Homo sapiens: one gene and its partners. Changing the gene in region 5 together with the main gene of any one other region gives a genetic interaction. Each region holds a gene or a part of one and is shown on either strand. Other genes may lie near its edges. The genes, in order: SDHC, MAPKAP1, KCTD10, GATB and PTCD1.

Evidence for each region.
Region 1: changes in PTCD1 (region 5) and SDHC together harm fitness less than expected from each alone (positive genetic interaction), as found in Homo sapiens cells (one large-scale study listed by BioGRID).
Region 2: changes in PTCD1 (region 5) and MAPKAP1 together harm fitness more than expected from each alone (negative genetic interaction), as found in Homo sapiens cells (one large-scale study listed by BioGRID).
Region 3: changes in PTCD1 (region 5) and KCTD10 together harm fitness more than expected from each alone (negative genetic interaction), as found in Homo sapiens cells (one large-scale study listed by BioGRID).
Region 4: changes in PTCD1 (region 5) and GATB together harm fitness less than expected from each alone (positive genetic interaction), as found in Homo sapiens cells (one large-scale study listed by BioGRID).

The regions. Positions count from the first base shown.
Region 1 is NC_000001.11:161,358,271-161,361,648, reverse strand, and holds part of SDHC (succinate dehydrogenase cytochrome b560 subunit, mitochondrial isoform 1 precursor), read right to left. Parts: intron 1-3,378. UniProt on the Homo sapiens protein: Membrane-anchoring subunit of succinate dehydrogenase (SDH) that is involved in complex II of the mitochondrial electron transport chain and is responsible for transferring electrons from succinate to ubiquinone (coenzyme Q).
Region 2 is NC_000009.12:125,668,766-125,673,480, forward strand, and holds part of MAPKAP1 (target of rapamycin complex 2 subunit MAPKAP1), read right to left. Parts: intron 3,879-4,715; 5' UTR 3,810-3,878; coding exon 3,551-3,809; intron 1,143-3,550; coding exon 1,053-1,142; intron 1-1,052. UniProt on the Homo sapiens protein: Component of the mechanistic target of rapamycin complex 2 (mTORC2), which transduces signals from growth factors to pathways involved in proliferation, cytoskeletal organization, lipogenesis and anabolic output.
Region 3 is NC_000012.12:109,466,798-109,471,512, forward strand, and holds part of KCTD10 (BTB/POZ domain-containing adapter for CUL3-mediated RhoA degradation protein 3), read right to left. Parts: intron 2,932-4,715; coding exon 2,718-2,931; intron 1-2,717. UniProt on the Homo sapiens protein: Substrate-specific adapter of a BCR (BTB-CUL3-RBX1) E3 ubiquitin-protein ligase complex. The BCR(BACURD3) E3 ubiquitin ligase complex mediates the ubiquitination of target proteins, leading to their degradation by the proteasome.
Region 4 is NC_000004.12:151,669,292-151,674,510, forward strand, and holds the end of GATB (glutamyl-tRNA(Gln) amidotransferase subunit B, mitochondrial isoform 1 precursor), read right to left. Parts: exon of another isoform or gene 3,606-5,219; coding exon 3,471-3,605; exon of another isoform or gene 2,298-3,470; intron 2,012-2,297; coding exon 1,883-2,011; 3' UTR 1,213-1,882; downstream 1-1,212. UniProt on the Homo sapiens protein: Allows the formation of correctly charged Gln-tRNA(Gln) through the transamidation of misacylated Glu-tRNA(Gln) in the mitochondria. The reaction takes place in the presence of glutamine and ATP through an activated gamma-phospho-Glu-tRNA(Gln).
Region 5 is NC_000007.14:99,418,701-99,422,695, reverse strand, and holds part of PTCD1 (pentatricopeptide repeat-containing protein 1, mitochondrial), read left to right. Parts: intron 1-2,546; coding exon 2,547-2,729; 3' UTR 2,730-3,254; coding exon of another isoform or gene 3,255-3,305; 3' UTR 3,306-3,522; coding exon of another isoform or gene 3,523-3,534; 3' UTR 3,535-3,995. Other genes in the region: ATP5MF-PTCD1 (ATP5J2-PTCD1 fusion protein), read left to right, coding at 2,547-2,729. UniProt on the Homo sapiens protein: Mitochondrial protein implicated in negative regulation of leucine tRNA levels, as well as negative regulation of mitochondria-encoded proteins and COX activity. Also affects the 3'-processing of mitochondrial tRNAs.

The DNA of each region.
Region 1 (3,378 bases), on a different chromosome or scaffold from region 5:
CCAGGATGGTCTTGATCTCCTGATCTCGTGATCTGCCCGCCTTGTCCTCCCAGAATGCTGGGATTACAGGCGTGAGCCACTGCGCCCAGCCTCTTACAGTTTACTAATGCACACTGTGAATCTCCAAAAGAGAGATATAATATGCCTGATTTCCTAGATACAGTCAATCTCAGAATCTTTTTATAGAGGGAAACTCTATTTATCAGAGGACTAGTATTCTAAAGGATACTCTGAGATCTAGAACACTATTTCTCAATTTTGTTTTGACTGTGACTCCACTAAGAAATACCTTTAAAACTGGAACCCAATAGATATGTATATATAATATAGCAAAAGTTGATAAAACAATATTTACCATTACTAAGTGGTGCCATATATATACAAGTATATATTTATATATTTTATATATAAATAAACTTCATTAAAAAACATATATTTTCTCCTTTTTGTGGAGAACGGGGTCTCATTATATTGTTCAGGCAGGTCTTGAACTCCTGGACTCAAGCTATCCTCCTGCCTCTGCTTCCCTAAAAGCTGGCATTACGGGCGTGAACTTCTGCACCCAGCCACTCCAGTGGCGCCATCTTGGCTCACAGCAACGTCAGCCTCCCAGGTTCAAGCGATTCTCTTGCCTCAGCCCTGCCAGTGGCTGGGACTACAGGCGCATGCCACCATGCCAAGCTAATTTTTGTATTTTTAGTAGAGATGGGGTTTCACCATGTTGGCCAGGATGGTCTCAAACTCTTGACCTCAAGTGATACACCCTCCTCAGCCTCCCAAAGTGCTGGGATTACAGGCATGAGCCACCACGCCCAGCCCCAGCCTATATTTTCTATTCTATTTAAATTTCTTTTTTTGTTGGTAGCATGCCACTAAATTGGTTTTCTACCAATTGAGTTAAAACCCACTTTTCTTTTTAATACTAAAAAATAGAGATAGACTCTTGTTATGTCTTGCCCAGGCTAGTATTGAACTCCTGGGCTCAAGCAATCCTCCCGCCTCAGCCTCCCAAAGTGCTGAGATTACAGGTGTGAGCCATCTCACCCAGCCCCTACCCCACCACCCACCCCCACTTTTTTTTTTTTAATTTTTTGAGACAGGGTCTCACTTTGTCACCTAGGCTGGAGTGCAGTGGCACAATCTCAGCTCACTGAGGCCTTGACCTCCCAGGTTCAAGCAATCCTCCTGCCTCAGCCTCCCAAGTAGCTGGGACTACAGGCACCCATCACCATGCCCAGCTAATTTTTTGTATTTTTGGTAGAGATGAAGTTTTGCCACGTTGCCCAGGCTAGTTTTGAACTCCTGAGCTCAAGCAATTCACCTGCCTTGGCCTCCCAAAGTGCTAGGGTTACAGACATGAGCTACCATGCCCCCAGCCCCACATTTAACAAAACACTAATTTTGACTCTCTTGTGTCTTAGGGATATTAACATATTAATATTATATTATAAGTCACTAAATGAGCCCATGGGGCAAAAGCAGTCTTCATTTTCCACACTTCCCACATACATGGCGCCTTAACACACACATACACACATACACCCACAGTCTGAATGTAAAACTGCCTAAATTAGGAGTCAGTTCAGAGAAAAGATGGAAGCCCAGAAAAAAAAAAAAAAATCAAGATGAGAAGATGCCTCCACCTCAACCCTCAAATTGCTTCTAACTAGGAGATTAGGAGTCAAGCAGATTCCACAAAGAGTTGTTTTGCTTAAATAAGGACAATGTTTTATAGAGAGTGAGTCCTACTGGGTAGCAGTAGTAGGCAGGGATATTCCCTAGAATGCCACAGACCCTATAACATCCTACTCTTTCACTCCTCACTCCCCCATTAGATCTTCTGGCAAGTCAACTATCAAGTTCAGAGGCCAAAAACTGCAGACTGTCACAGAAAACACAAAATCCTGTCCCACACTCACAGCCAGTACTTGCTAGAAGAAAAAATAAAAGCAGACTTAAGGACCCTTAGGTTCTTCACTTCCCTCAACAAAAAGATTACCATCACAGGCAAGAACCAGGGCAGAAAAGCTCTAAGTTCTGCAATTTTATAAAACCTCCCCTCTCTTACCCCCATATTGAGACAAAGACAAATATAGGGCAAGTCTCTGTCTGAGCCAAAATATGAACAGAGGAAGCTGATCAGCTGATTTTCTTTACAGAGCTTTGTTCTGTGGAATAGGAAGTCATTAATGGAAATGTCCTCCCTCTCTACTGCCTCCCCCTCAGGGAAGTAAAAAGTCATTTTAAATCAAACTGAACACTGCCCCAGGGAACAGTTGATACAGACACTTAATTTAATAAGTAATTTAGTCTCTCATTTTTTTTATTCCATTAAACTGTCTATTGGACCAGACTGAAATCCAGAAAGTGCTTGTCTCTAAGGCTATGATTTGGAAGTAATAAAAAGTCAAATTAAGGCAAAAGCATCCATCTGACAGTTGACTCAGATTCAGAAGTAATGAAAATACAGAAAGAACTGAATTTTAATTGCCTTCTTGGAAGCAAAACTAGGGAGACTACAAAATATAAAATCTTTTCTTTTTTTTTTTTTTGAGACTGAGTTTCACTTTTGTCACCCAGGCTAGAGTGCAGTGGCATGATCTTGGCTCACTGCAACCTCTGCCTCCTGGATTCTCCTGCCTCAGCCTCCCAAGTAGCTGGGATTACAGGCACATGCCACCACCCCCAGCTAATTTTTGTATTTTTTTTTTTTTTTTTGAGACGGAATTTCGCTCTTGTTGCCCAGGCTGGATGGAGTACAATGGCATGATCTCAGCTCACTGAAACCTCTGCCTCCCGGGTTCAAGCAAGTCTCCTGCCTCAGCCTCCCGAGTAGCTGGGATTACAGGCATGTGCCACCATGCCCGGCTAATTTTGTATTTTTAGTAGAGACAGCGTTTCTCCATGTTGGTAAGGCTGGTCTCGAACTCCCGGCCTCAGATTATCCGCCCGCCTCGGCCTCCCAAAATGCTGAGATTACAGGCGTGAACCACTGTGCCCGCCTATTTTTTTTTTAGATGGGGTCACTCTGTCACCCAGGCTGAAGTGCAGTGGCACAATCTCGGCTCAGTGCAACCTCCGCCTCCCAGGCTCATTCGATCCTCCCACCTCAGCCTTACGGGTAGCTGGGACCACAGGCGCACACCACCATACCTGGCTAATTTTAGAAACCAGTTTTGAGCAGACGATGAGGTCACATAGGAGGCAACATGGACAGTTTCCAATCTATTAAATGATTCCTGCCATGTGCAGTGGCTCGCGCCTGTAATCCCAGCACTTTGGGAAGCCAAGAGTTCAAGACCAGGCTGGCCAACATGGTGAAACCCCATCTCTACTAAAAAATACAAAAAAAAAAAAATTTGCTGGGTGTGGTGGCAG
Region 2 (4,715 bases), on a different chromosome or scaffold from region 5:
TTTTACACTAAGGGAAAAGAATTTGCATATATGCAAAAAAGACTGTTACTAGGCCCACTAATGGGGCAAGGAAAAGTCTAGGTTGGAACTGCCAAGAGAAATCTGTAACCTGGAAACTCATCCAAAATATCACAGGGGCTGGGCGCAGTGGCTCACGCCTATAATCCCAGCACTTTGGGAAGCCAAGGCAGGTGGATCACTTGAGGCCAGGAGTTCGAGAACAGCCTGGCATGGTGAAACTCCATCTCTACTAAAAATACAAAACTTAGCCAGGCATGGTGGTGTGCACCTGTAGTCCCAACTACTTGGGAGGCTGAGGCAGGAGAATTGCTTGAACCAGGGAGGCGGAGGCTGCAGTGAGCCGAGATGGCACCACTGCACTCCAGCCTGGGTGACACAGCAAGACTCCGTCTCAAAAAAAAAAAAAAAAATCGGCTGGGCACAGTGGCTCATGCCTGTAATCCCAGCACCTCAGGAGGCCACGGTGGGTGGATTACTGGAGGTCAGGAGTTCAAGACCAGCCTGGCCAACATGGTGAAATCCCATCTCTACTAAAAATACAAAATTAGCCAGGTGTGGTGGCATGCGCCTGTAATCCCAGCTACTGAGGACGTTGAGGCAGGAGAATCGCTTGAACCGGGGAGGCAGAGGCTGCAGTGAGCCAAGACCGTGCCATTGCACTCCGGCCTGGGCAAAAAGAGTGAAACACTATCTCAAAAAAAATAATAATAATAAAAATCAAATCATAGGGTACTCCTTGGCCTATATTTTTTTAAAAAATCAGAAAAAAATACTGACATGACAGCTTGTAAAAAATGTCCCCTGCACACATCAATCCCTGTGACCCAGAGTGAAGGGTGGCCAAAAAGCCAAGAACTAAAGAGCATATAGCTTCAGAGGGTCAAGGCACACAAGAGAAAGAGCTCAAAGCTCAAAACACTAGAGGTATCTAAGTCCAGAGGATTTAAAAGGATGAATTAAAAATAAAAGTTCTTATATAATAAACTAAATATATAAATCTCAAATTAAGAATTAAAATCATTTCCATTTACCTGATTGCTTAGAATTTCTTTCTTTCCACTGAATATTTTTGCATTTGATCTGGTTTTGTCTCTCTTTTCGGAGTCGTTCTAATCTTTGAGCTTGAAAAGAAATATTATAACTGTAAGTTTGTCAATGAAAGTTTACCATAAACAAAGACATAATTAACTACCTTTACATGAATAAAGATGTTTTATATTGCATATGTAGAGAAAAAGTCATAAAATTTTAAAGGTGGCACCCCTGAAAAGCAAATACCAACAAAAACATGAAAATATTCTTGATTTATAATTGAAATTAGAGGATATAAAACACTAATAGAGATCATAAAGATAGTATTAACATGGAAGAGAATAATAAAATGTGAAAACTTCTGTGATTAATATGACATTTCATTATATAAATCATTAATAACGGTCTTAAAGGAATTTTAATGCACAAATGAACTGAAGTGAATATTACATTACAGGAATAAAATTACTGTTATGAATTACTCTACCCATTTCAAAAATTAAAGATAAATGAACTCAGACTAGACTATTAAAGTTTTAAATATAAAATCCTTTATCTAAAAATCATGAAAATTATAAAATGTCAAAGCTATATAAATTAGCATAGCTTTTCTTCAGTGGGCTGAAACAGTTTATAGGTAGTAAAATAAATGATTTGTATCTTTGTAACATTAGTCAAATCTTAAAAAGAACAATTTTTCTTTTACAAAATTTTAAGATATGCTGCATGGATTAAAAAGTAAATTCTTTGGTCACTAAGACAACCTACAATCTCAATTAATTATTAGCATCTAAGTGCTACCTAAAGAAATTCCAACAAGAGTCACCTAAAATTATGCATTTGTGATTATATTGCCACTGGCTGATCAACCTTCAAAAATCAGTGAACTGATCCTTTAGAGAAATACCACCCAGCATGCACTTAACAACTGCCGCATACAGAGACCACAATAAAAAAGAAAGTCACAATTGATGCCATCTCTTGAAATCAGTTTTCTCTTGCTAATCTTCAGCTTCCTATCCCAGCATTTTGCTAATAGAAAATAAATACATCTCTTTTTCCGCCTCTTTCAAGATAGGAAATTATACACTTCTGCCTTAGCATTGTGGTAGGGAAACACTGAAAATAATCTTACCAGAAATTTAAACTATGCTGGGAAGAGCATTCTGACAATGTCACTATATCTAACCAACACTGAAGAAAACTACATTCAATTGCAATTAATAAATGTGAAGGGTACAGCCAAAGTAATATAATCATAAAGCTCTCAATTTAGCAGCATTCTCCCACTGAAATACATTCAACCTGTCATATAAGATATCATCTCAATAACCTGCAAGGAAGTCAGTTTCAACTAGAGAACTGAAAATCAATGGTTCTAAATTATATTCAAACCTTCACTCAAATCCTATTTTGACAAAAGTTCCTTTAGATACTGGGAAATGCTATTAATTATTTTCATCATGAGAGCAAATTATTCTTATGTCACAGATACTGAATTCTGAACCAAAACTTGAATGTGCCTTTCACAGTAAATTGTATCCAGCTCTACCTCCAATATTCCTTTATGTGTGTTTTACATTTGGACCATGAAAATAAATATGTAAGTATTTTCAGTGTTCTACTATATCTCCTTGCCATTACCTTTCCTGGGAGTTAGCAGGTTACTGCTAATTTGAAGATTATATTTTCTGATTATCTAAAAAAAATTACCTCCTAGAATACCTGTCATATTAGAACTACAATATGTATTCTAAATAATTTGTCTAAGTAAAAAAAAAAGTCCTTGGTTCATCACATTCCCCTTGAAACAAGGCCACCAAAAAAATATAAGTGGGAAAATGGGCAATAAGCTTTTAAAGCTAATGACTAAATACGTGTATACCAAAGTTGAGTGTTTTCAAGCCAGAAAAATCAAAAGGTGATCAATTTAAGAAAATAAAGGCGAAGTATCAAAAACAGGGGCCCCTTTTCTAATCTCACACCCTATGTATAGAATCCTACTAAAACCAGCCCTAACAAATACTCAGGTGTCTCCTCCCATTTCCCCACTCCCCCACAATTCCTCCAGGGGCAAGAAGTGCCTGCTCTCTTTGGGTGGTCACCTCTCTGTATTAAATGCTCTTTATTATGTCAACCTGAAATCTGTCTCCGGGTAGTCTACCTACTGGGACTAATGTTGCTGTGTGAAGACACTCAAAGCCAGTCCACTTGCCTTTCTACACAATGACTTGTTAGAAATGTCCAACATGTCTCTCCTAACCAACTTTTTCACTATCCCCCTTCTGTCTACTTCTAATAATATTCTAGAGGCCCTCTCCATTCGCAGTCGCAGAGATGGAGATGTTGCTCAGACTCACTCTTAGTCTGACATATGCATGTTCCTATTAATACCCGGAAACATCCCCCATTAAGCCTATTCCAATATTATGCATTATTCCATAAGACTGTTTACTGATTTAAAGCTCAGAAGACATGACTAGAACACAATGTTTACCTGTGTTTGAGCGTCTTCTAATACCAAAGTCCCAACTTGAGGTAATATCGACTGACTGGGCATATACATAGCCCTGAGTCTCACCATTGCTTCCCTGAATTTCTGACCCACTGTCTCCAGGCATTGAAGGAGGATGAATCTTCTCTAGGTCAACATCATGATCAATGAGAACCATCTCACACATTCCCGTGTCATCACTGGTCACATGTGACTGTCGAATATGAGCTAGAATGATAGTTGGATTGTCCAAGAAGGCCATCCTTTCTGTGGGCCAATTTCCTTAAAAGGCTATTTTCTCCTCTTCATATTGTTTCACGAGCTCACCTACCTAGAAACATGATGTACACAGCAAATATTTAAGAATAAGGCAGAAAATGACTGAATCATTTTTCAGACACATTCAGTGTAGTAAAATGCCACCTTGAAAATCAACATTTATCCCTGTTCTGTGGAGCTTAAAAGGATTTAGTCTAAGCTGAAAGGAAATCCTTATAAGCACTAGGGGCTGCAGCTCTAGTCAATGAGATCTCTATAGAATCAGAAAGGAAGGCTTGCACTCTTGCAAAACAAATCACAGCAACTCCTTACAAGTCAGGCCACTCGAAGCACATAACTACTGTTAAAACAATATATTTTCCTTTCTTTCTCCCTTCACTATCATGCAATCTTCTCATTACTTTATAAGGTCATGGGGGAACAAGTTGTATTTTCCTCAAATGATGTGCTAAAGTACAAAACTCTATTTCATCAGTTTACATTTCCCCTCCTGTCATATGATTGTGAAGTGTTTAAAAGGGCACAGACAATGCTTTCAGAGTTACTAGGGGTTTTATAAAAATGATGTACCACCAAATTAATGTTGCTCAATGAATATATTTTCCTGTCAAGATAGTATTGTGTTTTTGTTGTTGTTGTTGTTGTGTTTTTTCTGAGACAGGGTATCGCGCTTGTTGCCCAGGCTGGAGTGCAGTGGCGTGATCTTGGCTCACTGCAACCTCCACCTCCCAGGTTCAAGATTCTCCGGCCTCAGCCTCCCGCGTAGCTGGGATTACAGGGATGCGCCACCATGCCCAGCTAATTTTGTATTTTTAGTAGAAATGGGGTTTCTCCATGTTGGTCAGGCTGGTCTCAAACTCCCGACCTCAGTTGATCCGCCCGCCTTGGC
Region 3 (4,715 bases), on a different chromosome or scaffold from region 5:
CTGGCTGAGCTGCACTTGGCATTTCTGCCTATTTGTAGCAAACTTCATTGCAGCTGACAGGCTTCCAGCCTGTAGGCCAGGGTAGAGCTGCAGGATGCAGGGAGTCTATCCCAGTTTGTAGACCCAAGGGTGCATTTGAGGCAACATGCAGGCCATGGGTCAGGCTATGCAGTGCTCTCTCCAAGGACCGACAGGATCGCTCTGCCAGACACAGACAACAGCTGGAAGGCCAGATACCCAGCCTACCAGCCCAGGCCTTCACGAGGGCCCCCACCAGAGGGCTTTAGCACAAAGACAGCAGTTAAACCATAAGGATGCCACACTCAAATGATCTGGCCTTGGACCAGGCCCACAACTAGCCATGGACAGCAGACAGTAAGAGGCAGCAAGTCCTGGGTTCAGCAGCTTCACCTTTTCTAGTCCCATCAGCTTTTGAAAAAGCATTTCACCTCTGAAATGGGGACTCCTCACTTGGAATGGCAACAACAGTATCCACCCCTCGAAGGGTTATGGTGAGGATTAAATGAAACAATACCCATCGGCTGTGCGTGGTGGCTCACGCCTGTAATCCCAGCATTTTGGGAGGCTGAGGTGAGAGGATGGCTTGAGCCCAGGAGTTCGAGGCCAGCCTGGGCAACATAGTGAGGCCCCATCTCCAGAAAAAAATTCTAAAAATTAGCTGTGTTTGGTGGTGCATGCCTGTATTCCCAGCTACACAGAAGGCTGAGGCGGGAGGATTGCTTGAACCCAGGAGATGGAGGCTGCCGTGAGCTATGATGGCCCTAGTGCACTTCAGCCTGGGTGACAGAGAAAGACCCTGTCTCAAAAAAAGAGAAAAGAATGCCCCATAAAATGCCATACCATTAGCTTTTCATAATGATATGAAGCAGGGGCTGAGCTCCGGTGACATGAAACAAGTCACAGTTTGCAGTGTCAAAATGACACTGTGTCCCCCGAGAACCTGTGTTTTCCAGGCAGCACCAGGAGAAAAACATCTCATAGCAGGGATTTAGAAGGTGAGCAGTCCTGCCAGTACCACTCGTATGCTCTGTCCAGTCGGGGACAGGGGGACAGAGGAGTCCGTTTCTTTTTTGATATGGCATCAGGCCACCAAGGCGAGGCCTTTCGAGGAGAAGAGCCTCAGCTTTCGAGGCAACTCAGCAGCCTTTCCTGAGCCCCTCCAGAGAGTGGGTAGGGTATGAGAAAAACCACAACAATCCTGGTTCTCAGATAATGCCTGCTTCCTCCAGCAGCGGGGGTGCTATTGTCTTGATTTCCACAGATACTCTCGGGCCATGTGGGGTGTGGCACAGCAAAGAGGATCCTCCCACTCATAAAAAGCTAAGTGTGAGATGGCAGCTTTGGGGCTCCAACCTCAGTTCGCTGCTGCCTGAACAGAAACCGGAGTTCACAGGAAGCAGAACCTCCAGCCCCACACCCTGGCCTTCCCCAGGACACAGAGAGGAATGTCCTCACCAGTGGGTAGCCCAAGCCTCAGCCCTCTTAGGATCAGAGAATTAACTGTGGGACACCAGGCTTAGGTCCCCCAATCCCACCCGCTTATGTGAAAACTCACCCACCCTCCCAAGTCAATGTCCCTGGAAAGGTAGGGCAGCAGCACAGAAGACCAGTCTCAGAAACAGGAAGGCGGGGTCAAGGTCAAGCCAGGCTGTGCCCTGGCCTGGTCTTAAGCAATCTCAGGCCAAGGAATGAAGGATGGTACTATTTTTAAACCTCATGTGACCTGCACGCAAACCCAGCCAGGTAAGGATGGAGCCCTGTTGTCAGGGGCTCTTTGATCATTCCAGGTGAGTAGGAAGTAGTTATGACAATGCCCCTCTCAACAATTCTTTGCCTTTTTTTTTTTTTTTTTGAGACGGAGTCTCGCTCTGTCGCCCAGGCTGGAGTGCAGTGGCGCGATCTCAGCTCACTGCAAGCTCCGCCTCCCGAGTTCACGTCATTCTCCTGCCTCAGCCTCCCGAGTAGCTGGGACTACAGGCACCCACCACCACGCCCGGCTAATTTTTTGTATTTTTAGTAGAGATGGGGTTTCACCTTGTTAGCCAGGATGGTCTCGATCTCCTGACCTCGTGATCCGCCCGCCTCAGCTTCCCAAAGTGCTGGGATTACATGCATGAGCCACTGTGCCCAGCCGATTCTTTGCCTTTTAATAACATGACTTTCCACAAGAAAAAGAAAAACGTGTGTGTGTGTGTGTATATCTATCTATCTATCTACACACACACATATACACACATGCACTGAATACTGACTATGTGCCGATGGCCCCACGGGGGAGGGTATTGTCATGCCCATTTCACCAGAGGAAGAAAATGAGACCAAAAGCTTCGGCCACTTGGTTAGGATCACCAGATACTAATGGGGAGCTGAGACTGAAACCCAGGTTGGCAAGTCTTTGTCAAGACCCCATCTTGGGAGGACAAGGGTCCAGGGAAGATACCTCTCTCTCCCCCAGGCTTGAGTTTCACTCTGAAGTCACAGAAGCATGGCAGAGATAAGCAAGCTAAGCCCTGGGTGAGGAAGTGACTTTCTCAAAGTAACATAGCAAATCAACGACCAAGTCAAGATGGTGGGAGTCCCCAACAAGCTGCCTCCTACACATCTTCAGGTCTCGACTTAAATGTCACTTCTTCAGGGAAGCCCTCCTTGACCACATAACGCATGGCCAGAGGCAGGCACATGGTGGGTGAGCTTACCTTCACTGTCGGTGAGCACTTCCATGCGCCCGCTGAACATGGCCTTCAGCATGGTGTCCTGCTTGGTCAGCGTCTGCATGGTGGTATAGTAGAGGGCTCCACCCACATTCAGCTTCACGTATTTGGAGCTGGGGCTCGTGCCCTTGAAGGAAGTGGTGCGGGTAGCAGCCGCTGGCACCGCTGAGCTCACCACACTTTCTCCTGACATCTCTTCCTGCCAGTGGAGAGGATACAGGGTCATGACATCAGGCCTGGTTGACTGCTTTCAGCCTGTGGATTCAATCTGGCCTCCAGATGTGTTTTGCTTGGGCCACGCATACACAGCATTTAAAAGTTTGCTTCCAATGTGGACAACTAAGGAGAGCTCACAGAAAAATCTGGACTTCTGGCTTCTCCTAAAATCAGAGGCCAACTGGGCTAGCAGGGGAACAACTGGTCAGAGCTGGGGTATTGGATGACCCCTAGAGAGGGCCATGCATCCCCTAGTTTGTCCCAAAACCCACCCAAAAAGCCTCATACACTGACCCTGCCTGTCGACCCTGCAGGCACAAGGGTGCCCCTAACTCTTGTGTTATAAGCACTTCCTTTCTGCCTAGCACCTGTATACATGAACACCCTGGCTGCACCCTAAAACAGCCTAAAGCACTGCCCAGGTCTCTTTACATTTCCTTATTGCCATGTACCACTCAATAGCTAGCTAAGTGTCATTTTTCAGCTGCATCACAGATGAAATAAGCTTTATGAAGTTGAATGGGATTCCAGCTGGCACTCCTATCACTTCCTGTAGGGAGAAGGTGTTTCTGAGGACTAAACAACAGACATGGAAACTTTTGGAACCAAGTTATTGCAAAATTAGACCTCCTAGACTAGTGCTGCCCAAAAGAGCAAGATCCCACTACCATCTCCCTGATAGCATGGCTGACTCTCTGTACATCTCAAAGAAATGGATACAGTGGCTGATTTACGCAGGCCTGGAAAGTGAGATTGGTATCCGGCACATGTGTACTCAGAGCAAACATGTCTGAAATGAACAGGTAAAACTGTAGAGGTGGAGATGTGCAAGGGTGGGCAGAATCTTTGCTGAATCTGGGGTAGCCCCCACGGCTGGCCCTACCATTCCCATTGAACATCAACAGTTTTTCACAGCACATCACCCTCAGACAAGGCCACTCTGTGCCCTTGCGACAAGACAAAAACAGGACCATTCAGTCATCATGTCCGGACACAGACAAAAACATAAACATTATCCAAAATACAAAAATGACCAAAGATCCCCTATCCTGGCTAATAGGAGTTATAGCTGCTGCTTTACCAATGAGAGGTTTAGCCTCCTTCCATTCTTCCTGCTTTCAAGTCAGGAATCACTGAGACCCAATCACAGAATTAGCCCTGCTTCCCAGCAGCATCCAACACAGAGCAAAGCCCCACTTCTCTGAACTGTCTCTCAAATCACCCAACACAAGCCCACAGCCCTTCTCTGAGATGTCCCACAGTTCTTCCCCACCCCAATGCAACAAGGAAATAAACCCAACTTTGCTTGACTACAGGTATGCTCCTCGTGCTTTTTGGCTGCAGGGCACTGACAGCACATAACTTGTTTGAACTATTCCCTGAAACTGAAAAAGAATTGTCTAGCTTTTCCAGATTTTCTATAATGAATGGGTACTACAACTATAACTGGTAAAACACAAACGTTATTTTTGTAAATGGGACTGGGAGTAAAGGGAGGCAGCTTGCAACAGCAGAAGCAACGCGACAGTCATGGACAATATTCAATTCAAGGTTATCCAACTCTTCTGGCCAACTCTCCCCAACTCCATGGCACCCAACAGTGGCCTGGATATCACCTGCCATGTCAGGGCCCTGCAGAGTGAAACAGAGAAAGAACGGCCTCCTGGAAAGAAATGTTTTCTCAAGAAACAGTTCCTTTTTCATCAAGAAAAGTCACAAGAAAATATGTTTTCAAAAGCTCAGGCTTAGCTCACCTGGGGTCTTTGC
Region 4 (5,219 bases), on a different chromosome or scaffold from region 5:
AGCCTGGACAAATCAAGTGCTTTAACAAGGGCATCTTCCTCTGGGAATAATCAGTCCTTAATACAGTTTGCACTTGACATAATAGTTTTGGTAAATGTCTTTTTCTGGCTGCACCCCCTTTTAAGTAAGCCTTTAATTTTAAATGGTCTGGAAAGATCTTCGATGCTTTCTGTAAGGTTTAGTCACCAAGAAGCCAGAACTTTTGGTGAAAACAGAATTTATAAAATGAAACTGAACCTTCTCCTTTCTTACAAAATAAAGATCCTGTCAGACTCCAGTCTCAGACCACCTTTGCCCATTTGTAATTCAGACTTGCAGAGTGAGGAGAGAACTGCTTCAGCCTTACTGTCTTGTAGAGAGATTTGGTGAAAATCATGTTACTTTAGACCCAGTAGTTTTCAGGACCGCAACAGGATGCGGGGCACCTGGCTTCCCGGGTAAGGTCACATAGTCTCTTAAAATTCTGTCACTAATTTTTTTAAACGACTTTTTTTAAAAAGCCACCTCCTCATGCCTGTCCAAAATGAACCACGCAACTGGTTACCTTTCTCTGCCTACCTTTTGGGCTGGGGAAGAGGGGCACCTTTCTCATCACTCTCAGGGAAGTCCTGAGGAACTGTGCAAGCCAGGAAGCATGAGTCGCTGAATTGGTGATGGAGGGGTGTCCACTTTTTTCTAGTTCCTCAGCTGCTTCTGGAGCAGTGTTCACAACGGGAATGTTTTTACTGTCCTTGGTAGGCTACAGGTTCACAGCTTCAAATCAAGGCCTCCAAGGATTTTATTCTCTTACATCACAGTTTTGACAAGTATGCTTTTAAAAAACAACATTTGCAAAACTGGTCTTTAAGCGACGTGAGTCAGAGGTAACAAAGGCATATATATACCGAACAAAGGTGCTCCGGTGCAGTGGAGAGAACAGTATTAGTGTCGCAAGCACAGGAGTGCAGACAGCCCCGCCTTCATCGTGATGCCTGCAGCACACCACGATTATCATGAGAGGTCAAGATTTTGATTTACTAATTTATAATCTTATTTCCAAGCAAAACAAGTCAATTTCATGTTACAACTTTTTTCTTGTTTCTTTTTATCTTGTTTGGCCTGAGGGTTGGGGGATTTGGGGGAGTTGTCAGCTGCACAATCTTTGAAGTGTAAGTTAATTTTTATGTGATATTTCAGTATATATTTTATTGATTAAATTTATTGGAAAACTTATTTTTTTAATTCATTTATTCTCAGACTGTGCCTTCTGGGATGGGGAGGGAGTTTAACAGGCAATATCACTTCTACTCAGTCGATAGGTTGATTAATTCTAATAATATCCTCCTTCCCCACCCTCTTGAGACCTCCTTAAACAAACAAATGTGTTTATACTGTGCCAGTTTATTTGGTTGTATTTTCATCTTTGTTAACCTGTGTTTAGGTCTGAAAACAATACATCCAAATTACAGTCTCTCTTGACCACTGCTAATGCCCATCACCTACAATGGCTGGCCCTTAGGAGTTGCTCAAAAATATTTGTTGAAGGAACTGCAGAATGAAAAGTTTTCTTAGAATGGGTAACAGTATCTCCAACATACATTTTATTTAGTTTAAAATTCCTTAATACAAGAAGGTGTTACTCCTTAACCACTGCTGCAGCCTCACCGGACCCTCCTGATGTGGATGAAGCAGGCGGGGTGGCTGCTGGTCGGCTGTGGAGGCACCTCCAGGCACAGGGCCTAGAGGGTGAGAACACTGGTGACATTAATGCCATAGCTGTGGCTTGGGACAGGGATTGAGAGGCAGCTCTCAGGGCACATGGGCATCAGCTTTCACAGGATCCTGTTCCCAGTCAGGCTGCACTGTTTGTTGTTGTCCCTTGGGCAAGGGGATCCCAAACATCTCACAATGACAGCTTCTTCTCCAGGATCTCCTTTATCATGACTGGATCTGCTCGGCTTTGAGTCGCTTTCCGGACCAACCCAATCAGTTTATTTATAGCTCTGGGGTTTCTGTTCTTCACATCCATTACCTAGAAGGACAGAAATTACTTACTTAAGAGGAGAAAATGAAGGGATTCATGCCCCCAAATCCCAAACTAAGGCTTAAGTTTACTGAAAATTAAATTCCGCTTATTTCCACTAGTATTAGACATAAAATGTAGAACAGAAAAAGGGGAGGGGCCTCACTTCTGAGTAGGTTTCTAGGCTCCTGTCAAAGGAGATTTTTGCTACTCTGCTTTCTGATTAAAATGAGCAAGAAGTGATTGCCGAAAGCCAGAGAAGCTGGCACGTGGGAGCCAGGGCCCTCCCCTCTGCGACGCCACAATGACCGAGGACACTGAGTCTGGGGAGGGATAATCTCTCTGAGATGATGAATCACTGCGTCTAATCAGTGAGGACACCTCTCTGATTCTCAGTGATGTTCAGCTGAAATGTGTGGCTTTCCTTCTCCCCCTGCTCCCCACCAAGAAGATTCCTTTATCAGAAAGCAGATCTACACACTGGCCGAGTCTTCCAGAGCGCTGGGTCGGGGGGAGTGTGCTGTGTGGGCAGGGGGAGTGAGGAAGCCAGGAGGTGCTGAATTCCTATCAGATAGCCACTGACTCTTAGGGCCACCACGTGACCTCCTGCTCTGCAGCGTCTCCAAGGGCAATGACATGAGGATCTGCACTCAAGTGCCACAGAACAAGCCTGAAACTACTGGCACGTCTTTATCAGTCACCACAGATGAGGCAGGAAGACGAGGCTGTGGAGGCCCAGTGCAGGCTCATTTTCCTTATCGAGAGCTCTTTACAGAGCTGTGAGTGTCCCCGGCAAGCTGATGGGTGGGTGGGTATTATTCTGAAAAAGATGCCGACAATTTTTTTCCCCACTGAAAAAATATCTCTAGACAATATGATTAGACTTGGGGAGGGAGGGATGCCACTCGTTTTAGCTTTTATGTCTTGTGCTGTGCTAAGAACACAAAATGACCTGGTTTTCAGTCATGCTCCTGTCAGGGATTTTCTCCACAATTTATGAATACTTTTCCCTTCTGCCTTTCTTCCCACCTCTTAGAAGCATGAAGCTGAAGTTCCTGTACTCTCCCTGCTCTGCCGGCACACCTGCTGGTTCTTTACTGGGAGGTCCTTAGGAAGTAGCGCTAACCACAACAGATTCGAAATGCCAACCCTGGGAGAGGGCGACACACCTGGGAGGTCACAGCTTGGATTTCGTGAGCTTGCTGACACCCTTTTAAACTACACCTCCATGGAGAGTAAACTCCAGGGGTGGCATCCTTCTTATAGGAAAAGAAGTTGTGTTTTTCCAATATCCACCTATTTCATCTCTTCTGACCTTAACTAAAAAGATGACAGTGAGGGAATTATTGATGAAACTGGGTCAGCCATTCTTAGGAAGAGCCTCTGGGCTGCCACAGGGAGCGATGGCGAGGCTCTTGGGCATGTCCTGGGGCTGGCTCTGGCCCTCTCCCCTGCCCGAGATAGTCACCACTTGAGGATGGGCCTCCATCACAGAGTGGCAGAGCTGCTCCAGTGCCCCCTGGTCCTGCATCAGTTCAAGCTGCTTTTCTGAAACAATCTGCCCTGGAGTCTTGCCTTCCCTCTTCCACAGTTCCTCAAACACCTATGGACCAGAGAAGGGAGAGGAAAGAGAAATGAGAAGTCAGCTCTTCTGCCAGCTCCATTTGCAGTGCTGTGCTGTGTGGAGCTGGGGTGGGAATGAGCAGATTCAATTAAGTCCCCACTGCCTGGGCCTGGCCCAAAGGGAAAGGGCACCTGGCTGCCCTGCCAGAGCGTTGGCTCTCCTGAGGCATCCCTGAGTGCAGGGCTGGGGAACAAGGCCAGCTAGGTGGAGTGAATGCACCTGGGGTCTCCTCCTGAGGCTGAAGTCTCCCTCAGCATAAGGTGTGAGAGGACTCGGGCCAGCCAGATGCCCTCGTGCCCAGAGGGATGGTGAGTCCTGCCCGGCTGACTCCACATGGCGGGGGGGGGCCGCGGGAGGCGTGGAGGTGCCCATCACTCATGGGCGCCTGCTGACGGGAGTCGGCGGGCCACTGATGGATCTGTCTCATGGCCGCCGAATTAATTGAGGTGACATTTTGGTGAAGGATGGGGCCACACAGCCTGCAGGAGGTAACCACGGTACTAAATAAAGTCCAGAAACAGCATGCTGGGAAAGATGACTTTAGGGAGGCAGGAAAGTAGCCCCGTAATGAAGATACAAAATGGCAAACAACTGAAAACATAAATTAGAATCCACAGGGGCCCCCTGGCCTACCACATTCATCTCCTACAGGTAGAGCCGGACCCAAATCAGACTAGGATAATGAACGCTAATGTTTGGGGCATTTTTTTTTTACTTAAAAAATGACAACAACAAATCCCCAAATTCATCAAACCTGAGAAAAAGGAAACCATTTTCAAGGAAGGCTATTTCCTAGGGTAGCTGTTTTCCTCATTTCTCTTGTCTTCTAGCGAAAGCCAGAATTGGGAGCCGGGAGGAGGGCTTCCTCTGTTGGTCTCCCACCGGTGCCACCTCCGTCCAGTCCACAGTCATGACTGAACACCCAACTTTCCCTGTTACCTTGGTGGCCGAGAACGGGCCAACCAGGAGCCATTCCTCCTGGAAAAACAGAGCTCTTCCATAATTAGCACGAACAGCAAAGCAAATAAAAGGGAGATGCTCTGAGTCTCAGCAGGGCTCAAAGTCTTCCCCAGTCTGATTCAAAAACAAACCACAAATACTTATCACTGCTGGGACAGGCACTGCGCCTTCAGCCTGGTGCCTCAGAACGTGCGCTGTGACTGTGGCCAAGGAGGTGTGCTTGGCAGGTCCTGGGTAAGCTCCCTACAGGGCACCCCTCTGCCGCTGCCCGACTGCTCAGGAAAAGCCTGGCCCTACTCTTAGAAAAATACAGAATGCACGTGCCTCCAACTCAATTCAGCAGATATGTACGTGGCCTGACAATGAGGAAACCATTGGGAGAAAGGGGGCACAGAAGCGGGAAGAAACTTCCTCACTCTCAACATGCTTATCAGTGGAGTGCTGCCAGCAGAAGCACTGGGGACCTGGATGGCGTTCCATGGAGCTGCCCTGTAAGTCGGAGGAGTCCATCTGCCCCCTTTCTCTGACACGTTTATTTTTTGAACTAGGACTTAAATTTTAAAAATCATTTTCTAATAATAAAAGTTAATACACATTCACTGCAGAAAATATAAGGAAATACAGGAGAGATCA
Region 5 (3,995 bases):
CTGTTGGCACAGCCGCCAGCATTTACCCCTGCAAGCTTCCAGTTTGCTTATCTATGTCTGCAGCTCGATTTTTCAGGCTGCTCTTTGTTAGAAAAGAAATTATTTGGGGGCTGCTTTTTATTAAAAGGGAAATTTCGCCAAGGACTCTGTTGCCCTTATTATCTGCCTAAATAATTTCTTTCAACCTCCTGTATCAGCAGGAGCAGGGCAGAGTCATGGAATCTGCTTTGTCACGGCCACAGCCTCTCCCTGCTGTTCTGAGGCTATCAGGCTCTGGGGTTTGGCTTTTGGGTCCATCGAATCACACTCTGTGCTGAGCATCTCCGGAGCATCGAGAGCCACTATGGCTTGAAGCACAGCCCGGATGGGGCGGAAACAAGTAAATGGGCAGGGACACACACAGCTAGAGGGTGCGGGGTCAGGAACGCCGTGCAGGTGTCACGCCTGAATGCCATTTTGAGGGCTTCCTACAAATAGGTGGGACAGCAATGGAAATTGTGTCTGGCTGAAGGCATAGCTGGGCATTTTTGAACTGTGTCTGTGCTTTGAACTGTTGGTTGCAAGCCTTTTCTCATTGATTCCAGGGTTTTTTATATATTCTGGGTACTGGTTTTTTGTTGATCACATGTTGTGCATATCTTCCTAGTGGATTGTCTCTTCCCTCTGGCGTAGGGCTCACTAGGGGTTCAACTCGACAGTCACAAGACTATCATAGACCTAAAGCATATCATATTTAAGTCACAGACAGATGTCCCTGACTTAAAGATGATTCTACACAGGATTTTTCAACTTTGCAATGGTTTTATCAGGATGTAACTCTGTAAGGATCGACTTTGTGCGGGGTTAGTTTCTACTGAATGTATATCACTTTTGCATAATTATAAAGTCAGGACCCTCTGCTGTGTTGCCAGCAATAGATGCATTTTCCTTTTGTTTTTTATGAGATGGAGTCTCACTCTGTCACCCAGGCTGGAGTGCAGTGATGCGATCTGGCCTCACTGCAACCTCTGCCGCCCAGGTTCAAGTGATTTTCCTGCCTCAGCCTCCCGAGTTGCTGGGATTACAGGAGCCTGCCACCACACCAGGCTAATTTTTGTGGTTTTTTTTTTTTTTTTAGTAGAGACGGGGTTTCACCATCTTGGCCAGGCTGGTCTTGAACTCCCGACCTCGTGATCCACCCACCCCAGCCTCCCAAAGTGCTGGGATTATAGTTGTGAGCCCCCATGCCGTGCCGCATTTTCTTTTTTCTTTTTTTTTTTTTTTTTTAAAGAGACGGGAATCACTCTGTTGCCCAGGCTGGAGTGCAGTGGCACGATTATGGCTCACTGTAGCCTTGACCTCCCAGGCTTAAGAAGTCCTCCCACCTTAGCCACCTGAGGAGCTGGGACTACAGGCATGTACCACTGTACCCAGCTAATCTTTTAGATAGGGTTTCACTATATTGCCCAAACTGGTCTGGAACTCCTGAGCTCATGTAATCCGCCTGCCTCGGCTTCCCAAAGCACTGGGATTATAGGAGTGAGCCAGCACACACAGCCAGATTGATTTTTGATTTACGATGGGTTTTTGGGGGGCGGAACCCTGCTGTCAGGAGCATCTGTACTCATATTCCCTCATGATGGTGGACTTGTTTATATTCGTGATTCTGTTGAGTTTTGCTTTCTGTGCTTTCAGGCTCTATCCGGCACCTTAAGGTTTAGAATTGTCCAGTCTTTTGAGTCAAACCTTTTTTTGTTTTTGTTTTTTTTTGAGATGGAGTCTTGCTCTGTCGCCCAGGCTGGAGTGCAATGGCGTGATCTCAGCTCACTGCAACCTCTGCCTCCCGGGTTCAAGCCATTCTCCTGCCTTAACCTCCCAGGTAGCTGGGGCTACAGGCATGCACCGCCACATCCAGTATTTTTAGTAGAGATGGAGTTTCACCATGCTGGCCAGGCTGGTCTCGAACTCCTGACCTCAAGTGATCTGCCCACCTCGGCCTCTCAAAGTGCTGGGATTACAGACGTGAGCCACCGCACCCGGCCAAACCTTTTGTCATTGTGTGGTAGTAGCTGTATGTTGGATAGCACTTTTTGGCTTTTTTGGTATATTCCCCTACCAGCTCTCAGTTTGTGTCTGGTGTGTCTTTGCTTTTTTCCCCATATCTCATGGAGCCTATCTTGGCAGTGTTGAGATAATGGTCAGAGGGAGGTGGCTTTGATGGGGAGGGGCTCGGCAGGCTGTGGAGGCAGAGCTGGTGGGACCCAGTGATTCTGGCTTGGGGGCCTGGGGTGGCAACTGCGGATGGAGGAGCACAGTGGTGCCTATTTGGGAAGAACGCCATTGGGCAGATGGCTCTGGGCCTGCCCCAGGGTACCCAGCGGGGACCTGTTTCTCTGAAGTAAGCTAGTCCCATAGTGCGTGTTCACAGCTTTTCTGCCCTGTCCTCTGCAGCCACCTGGAAGGGAAAATGGCAGCCACCAGCTTCCCTGAGGCCTGAGCCAGCTGCCGAGGTTTGGGATTAGCTGTAGGTAACAGGAGTGATTCTAGCCTCACTTTTCTAATTCTAGTACCAAGGGAAGAACACCTACCTGGAGAAGATTGACGGCTTCCGAGCCTATTACAAGCAGTGGCTGACAGTGATGCCCGCAGAGGAAACCCCGCACCCCTGGCAGAAGTTCCGGACCAAGCCCCAGGGGGACCAGGACACCGGCAAGGAGGCTGATGACGGATGTGCCCTTGGGGGCAGGTGATGGGAGCACAGCTGGAACAATGTGCTCGGCCCCCAGTGCTCTGTGGGAGCCCCAGGACAAGTGAGCTGGTGTCACCTCCTGCCTGGGGGAAGAGCCAGGCCCTGAGGAACAGCCGCAGCGTGTCACAGGTGTTGGTGAGGACACACACTAGGCCCAAGGTGCCTGTGCTCCCAGCAGGTCCAAGTGCAGCTCCAGCCACCTTTGCGTGTCACCTTCACGGGACTTCCAGCTCCAGCTACCTTTGTGTGTCACCTCACACACCACAAGGGGGCTGGGGCATCTGGTCCCTGGGGCCTGGGCCGCCCCGCCGGGTTCCATAGGCCGATGCTCTGAAAGAAGAGACGTGGGGCTCGAGAGATTTAAAGATTTTATTTTTACAAATCACAGCTGATAGACAGCGAAGCCTTCCCCATAGAGACCGTGCTCCAACTCGGGCCTGGGGCACTGCTCGCTGCTCCCAGGAAGGGGGTGGCGTGACAGGCAGGAACCTGCGAAGTCCAGAGTCCAGGGTGGAGCGCGCCAGCCTCAGCCAGAGCAGCCACGACAGCCACAGTGTGTGCACTCGATGATGCGGCCCTGCAACGGAGGAGGACAGTGAGACGATGCCACTGCGCCACGCTCGCCCCTGCACACTCACATATGTGGCAACCCTCCCACGAAGGACCTGCCACCATGCCATATAGGGACACACCTCAGAAACCCTTCCTTGACAGCTCTGGACAGGGAAAATTTGGCTCCCTCATGAAGGTAGAACCAGCTGCTGTTGACACCGAGGTTACATCTGTATGTCTATTTATAATATGTTCTGCAAATCCAACACACGTTTGCCAATCAAGAAAAAGAAATCGGTGTGAATGAGTCTCGTTATTCTGCTAAGTGAGCATGACAGACCCTGCGATGAGCAGACGTGGCTCTGCTACTGTTTGGGGACTTCAGGGGGGCCTCTGGGCTGGTACACTCTGGTGGGGGAAGAGGGCAGGAGACTATGCACTTGAGTCACACCCTTCTGGCCCAGAGCCCCCCAGAAAGAAGGGTCTTGTCCCCCAGGCCTGGTGCGGCCCAACACTTGGCCAGCCAGAAAGCCCTAGAACAGTGGCTTGTGTTTATTTTACTTTTTCAAGTTCTTTTTTTGGAAGAACAAGACCATAGTTTAAGTAAACAGGATCCTCTGGTGAAACCCAGGTAAGTCTACAGCGGGCTGTTTTGGCCACAGGGCTGAAGCAGCACCCCAGCCCACCAGCCCCTGACCTGGACTCCTTGTGGAAT